Linked DNA regions of Homo sapiens: region 1 is linked to region 2. Evidence: fine-mapped expression QTL. A gene starts in region 2. The other region holds a variant in brackets. All regions are shown on one strand. Distances are between the middles of the regions.

Region 1 (2,917 bases), 150 kb after region 2:
CAGTCTTTTCCTTTATGGTTAGCACATTTTGTGTCTTAAGAAATCCTTTTGTTCTCTAGGTCATAAATGCATTATCCTTTTGTTCTCCCTACAAGTCTGACAGGTTTGCCTTCCGCATTTAACTTTTAATAATCCTAAAATTATAAGTTTTGTACACCTACTTTCATTGTGCTGTTTTTATATTTATGCAGCAGGTGCCCAGGGCTGTCAACTGCCATCATGTAAGCTAGGATACATTACAACAGATGTGCCCAAATATGAATACTCTACAAATCAGAGCCACCAACTTTTCATCCTGGGGCAGATTTGCAAGCTCAGCTCCAAAATGCAACTTGTGACTTCTTGGAAAGCAACAGTTCGTTATTTCAAATAATTTAAAAGCTGCATGATAACTTTGTGTTTCAAACTAGACTCTCAAAATTTTTAGTATTTTTGGTCTTTAGATGGCTAACTTGATCTTTTCTCTCATCTGGAAGAAAATGTTCTGTGACCATGTGAGATAAAGGAATGACTAGAGGTGACACTATGAGAAACATCATCTAGAAATGCTAGATGACAGTAAAAGTAGCCGATGCTGATGAGAGGTGAACAGCAACTTGTGTTCCTACTCTTTAAAAGATTTTATTTCAAGGCTGTTAATAGTGACTTTGTATATTTTAGCAAATTCAGTGTCTAGGGGGTCTCATTTTTATATGGTAAAAATCCCGCCTTACATGAACTAAGAACAGTATATTCAAAAATTGTCTGGAATTTTATGTTTGTTCTCCATGAAATGTCTAATTATCCAAAAGCTCTCAACCCTTTTCCCCTAAAAAGATATTAGGGCAAAGTTTTAAGGATGTCTAGTCTCAATGGAAAACTATGAAAAATGGCTTTAGTTTTTTTCTAATATGATTTTTTCTGTAAGAAACAGTTAAATACATGATTTTTTCTGTCATTTCTTTAGAGAATAAAAGGAGATCCAAATCATACTGACTAATAATAGTAACACTTGCCTTAAATTGCATCAACATTAGTCTTCCATTTTATATCTGTGTCAAATTAAGTGATAAACTTACATTACATCAGATATCTGGCCCTGTGAAGATCTAGGACAATCTCATATGAAATTGATGATTTATTAATAGTTTCCAAAAGTGGATTTAGGCTATCCTAGATATTAAGCAAATTTAGAGAATGCCTTAGTTATTTTCTTGAGCTTTGTCTTAAAAATATGGACTGAGAGCTGAGCGTGGTTGTTTGTATCTATAATCCCAGAGACTCAGAAGGCTGAGGCAGGAGGATCATTTAAGGCCAGGAGTTTGAAGCTGCAGTGAGCTATGATTGCCTGAGCGACCAAGTGAGACCCTATCTCTAGTAAAATAAAATAAAATAAAATAAAATAAAATAAAATAAAATAAAATAAAATAAAATAAAATAAA[G/ATAAAATAAAG]ATATGGGTTGAAGGTAGTATCGTTTGGTTGAAACAATACAAAATAGTAAATTTTCAAGGGTATCAGAATGAAAAAGAGGTAGTGTAGTTAAACTTAATCCCAAGTAATAACTATCCAGACCGCTGGCCCACTTTTAAACTGAGAACACACTTGCTTTCCTTTGCATCCTTTGCCAGAATGTGTGTAACACTTCGAGCTGGGATTTCAAGGACAGTCAATACAGATTACTACAGAATCTTATTTATATGACATCCTGGGTGTTCTGAGAAAAACCTGGGAAACCTATGCAATAGTTTATAGATGAGCGGGACTTCCATATTAGGTTTTGCCTTGGCTATGAGCATGATATGGGCCCCTATTGCATAATCCCTCTTGATGGAGAGGTACCTCTTGCAATGAAAGTCAAATGCATTATTTTGGCTACTCAGTCTTCCCAGCTGCCACATGTCTTATTTTATGTCTAGTGGGCAGCTGGTTACAGCTGCCTGGAGACAGTTTTATTCATCAGAAGTGAAGTTTTATTCATCATTGGTGAAGTCTGGTGCTTCTCGAAACTCATATCATGGGTGGTAAGGTGTCTCCACAATGATGCTGATGAGAGAGTCCAAGCAGCTTTGGGGGCTTTCAGAGGACTCCCCTGACTGCAGAGGGATTCTGAAGCCTCAGTTTCCAATCCTGATCCAACATTCCATGTTTTGTGGACTAACCATTCATTCTCTTCTAAACTTTACTGTTATTGTTTTTTAACCCAATGATCTTGATTATCCGATGTCTATCTTTGAATCCTCAAAAATGGATAGAAATATCAATGCAGGGGAGAGACATAGGATAACGGCCCTCTAGGGTAATGCCTCTGCAGAATGACCAGTATTTTGGCACTATTAAAAGTGTGTGTTCTTGAAAGATCTTGTCACAACTCTTGTTTCCAATTTGTGTAGGAGATCTAGTGACAATACTGGATCATGTGAGGGAAGTGTGTTGTGGACAACAGAGCCACAGGTGAGGAGAAACTAGCAAAGCAGTTCTAATGCTTACACTGGACTGATTTCTGAAAAACAAAGTACAACACAACAAAACAAATTTCTTTCTTGTTTGAGTCCTGATGTGTGTGCATTGCATTTGTTGGAGCAGTTAGACCAAACCTTCACACCGATAATACATCTTTTGTGCTTTCTTTCCCTTATGAAAAATTAGCATTTATATATCTATTAGAGGTGTTTTGTGGTATAGATAGGCAGAGATGTTGAGAAGTCTTAAAACCTTAGAGTAGGGCACAGCACTAATCTACCACCTAATGGAGAAATCTCCTTTACAACTGTCAGTGTAAGTGCCCACCCTCTGCTGGAATGCCATCACACTGCTTGAGGCAACACCATATGCCATAGGCAGACAATATAAACTGAAGCTGGAAACAGAAAGGACTCCTTCAACTCCTAATTCACAAATTTCAAACTTTATTCATTTTTTTTCTTCTCTTGAATTTAACTCTGTCTCT
Region 2 (2,917 bases):
TCTGGTCACCGGCGTACCAAAACCAAGCCGGGAGTCGAGTCTGTAGGGGGTGATTCGTGAGGACAACAATTGTTTTTGGGACAATTTGACTTTTTCTTGATGCTACCTGTTGTGTTTTCTCAGATGAGAGAAAGAGAAGGCGGTTCAAATTAGAGGGTCTCTAAAAGATAATTAGTCAGCAAGAGTCCTGGTGAGCGTTTGTTTAAACAGCTCCTATTAGGGAACCGCGAGCATCGTTAAGTTCATTCATGTAGACTGTATCCTTTCTGTAAGGAATAATCATGTTGGACTTTTGTTTCCTGAAACAAAACCCGACAAAGAGTTGGCTAATGTTTAAGATAAAGGACTGTTGGGAGCTATGTATCTCTATATCAATCATTCTATTTTGCCCTGAAATGTAAGCTTTTCCCCTAGTGTCCCCCTAGCTGCTCCCCATAGGAAAACTCCCCGGCCGAGTTTCCACGGTGAAAAAAATCAGCCCCAAACCCAAGCCATTTCGAAAAAGACGCACTTCTTTGGGATTAATTTAAAGACAGTTATTGTATTTATTTCCTCTGGCAATGAATTCCGTGTCGCCATGGTTTCAGAGAAACGAGAAAGAGAAAATAACTCCCCAAACCGGCCTCGCGCACGCCGTCGGCCAGCGACTGCCAGCGGGATGGGCCTTTGGGCGAACCCTGCCTCCTCCGCCGGTAGACCTAACCCGCAGGCCCGACCTCCGCTGCCTCCGGACGTTCCCGGTTCTGCTGGGCCGCCGCGCTGGACTGAGCGCTCAACCACCCGACCCCAGGGAGCTCGAGGAGCGCGGGTCGCGCACGACGTCGGGAAGGCCCAGGAGGCCGCGAGCAGCGGCGGCAACCGGACAGCGCCGACCCGGCACCCTGAGCTCATTAGGAGTCCAGCGGTCCCGCGGGTAGTAAGATTCAGAGCCCGGAGCCTGGGCGCGCGGAGGGCGGCTCGGGGCCGACTCGTGTCACTCAGCCCTATTGGCCAATGAGCGCCTCGCCCCTGGCCGCGCCAGGCCAATGGGAGGCGAGGGGGCTTGTGAGTGGCATTGAGGGAGGGCGGGAGAGAGGCGGCCCCGGAGTGAAGTTGAAGCTAAACCCTTAAGCTATAAAGAAGTTACGGGGGGCAGTTTTCGGCTTCCAATTAGGAATAATAGTGAACTGGCTTCGTAGCAACTACGGAGGACCAGGATTCTAAAATCACCTCACTCGTCCCAAAGCTTGCATCCTCCTCTTTCTGCCACGCACCCCTCCTCCAATTCATGATCCAGAAAAGGGAGCCGGGAATGCTCTGCTCCTCTCTGCCGGTGGGAAGCGGAGAGGCCGGCGGTGTCGCTGGGTTGGACGGTAGGCATGAGAACAGTTAAGAGATGGGCGCCCCCGAAACCTCTGCCGCTTGTGGGGACTGAAGGTAGGTGAAGCAGAAGACGCCCCGCGCCCGCCCAGCAGCCCCGCAGCTCCGCGGTGGTGTGGGAGAGGCCGCGGCGCCTCCCACCCCCGGGGGAGCCTGCGAGGGGCTGTCGCGAGCGCGCCACCTGTTAACCTGGCGCTGCTGGGCCCCGCTTGTTGCAGCCCCTGCTGGGCAGCCAGAGCGCTGGGTCGCCTTGGGAGTCCCGAGAGACTTGGTGTGTAAGTGTCACTTTTTGAGGAATCCCTCAGACTTGAGACCCAAGTTAAAGAGGTAGCCAAGGTCCAGATCTGCCAAGGTAGGGAGCTGAAAGGCCCCTGCCTCGCCTTGGAGGAATTCTGATTTGCGGAAACCTGCTTTCCTGGGACGTGCGCCCGGCCTGGGCGCGGACTCGGGGATCCGCGGCGGAAGATCCCTTGCGGGTCTTCAGAAATATGTATTTTGTTGTTTGGGCAACTTCCCAGGGGTCTGGAGGATGCGGCTGGCATGGGTGAGGGAATGCCAGCATTATTTGCAGGGGGCTGTCTCGCTGCCGATTTACCCGTTTCTTTAAAAACAAACCCAAAACGCCTGGCTAGGCGCACTGAGGCCCTTTCCGGCCGTGTTTTTGGAATTGGGACGAGTGTGTGAGTACTTGTGGAGCCGCTGATCTCTTATGCTCTGATGCTGTTGTCTTCACAGGGCCTTGAAAGAGTTGTCTGGGGTTCCTGCTCTTCCCAAAGGGGCTCGGAGATACCTTAAATGCCGCGAGACTGAAGAGCAAACGTCAGGGATTATTATGTCGATTTTCCGAGGACCAGGGTTCGCAGCTGGCAGTAGAAGAAAAGGCTGGCTCCTCAGGGGTCCCACTGGCATTTGATACCCTGAACGACCCTCAGGATTGCCCAAATTCGGTGGATCGCCCAAATTCGGTGGATCAGCAACTTTCCTATACTGCATCCCGAATTTTCAAAGAACATATTTTCCGTTCACCCCCGCTGGTCTTTTACTGCCATCAATACACTGTTCTTGGTGCAAATACTTCAGCCTCTTTATTCAAAGTATGTTTTATGTTTTTGCCAAATATGATCTCTAATTGAAAGTTTATTTTTGGTTTTGGATGAATCTGCGGAGCTTAAGTTGTGAGAAGAAAGGGGGAACAAGACACAATGAAAGAAAAGTCCAAAAATGCTGCGCGGACTAGGAGGGAGAAGGAAAACAGTGAATTTTATGAACTGGCTAAATTACTGCCTTTGCCCTCGGCTATCACCTCGCAGCTGGACAAAGCATCCATAATCAGACTCACGACCAGCTATCTCAAAATGAGAGTGGTGTTCCCAGAAGGTAAGTGACTTTGCCCAGATGGAATTTCAAAGGCAGAAGGGGCCGGGGATTTGCCAGGCAATGAGCCGACATCAGTGACCAGAGAAATGCATACATATTTACATATATATTTTGCAAAGGGAAGTTTAGCTCGGCTGCTTCACTAAGGTCCTCACTGAACTCAGAATTTCTGTCGCTTTTT

Direction of the effects. Alleles are on the strand shown, and positions count from the first base shown. SD is a standard deviation of normalised expression in the study named.
In carriers of allele ATAAAATAAAG in region 1, the expression in skeletal muscle of the gene that starts at base 1,109 in region 2 tends to be higher than with G alone (moderate effect, 0.56 SD a copy in FUSION).

Evidence for each region.
Region 1: its variant is fine-mapped to the expression of SIM1 in skeletal muscle (FUSION, PIP 0.95).

What each region holds. Positions count from the first base shown.
Region 1 is chr6:100,308,251-100,311,167 of GRCh38, reverse strand. No RefSeq gene overlaps it. Among named protein-coding and RNA genes, the nearest start is that of SIM1-AS1, 84 kb to the left of the region's middle. The variant G/ATAAAATAAAG (reference allele first, on the strand shown) is at 1,422.
Region 2 is chr6:100,463,113-100,466,029 of GRCh38, reverse strand. It overlaps SIM1 (SIM bHLH transcription factor 1), which reads left to right and starts at 1,109. Exons shown (of 12, transcript NM_005068.3): 1 at 1,109-1,416; 2 at 2,095-2,736. The coding sequence starts at 2,562.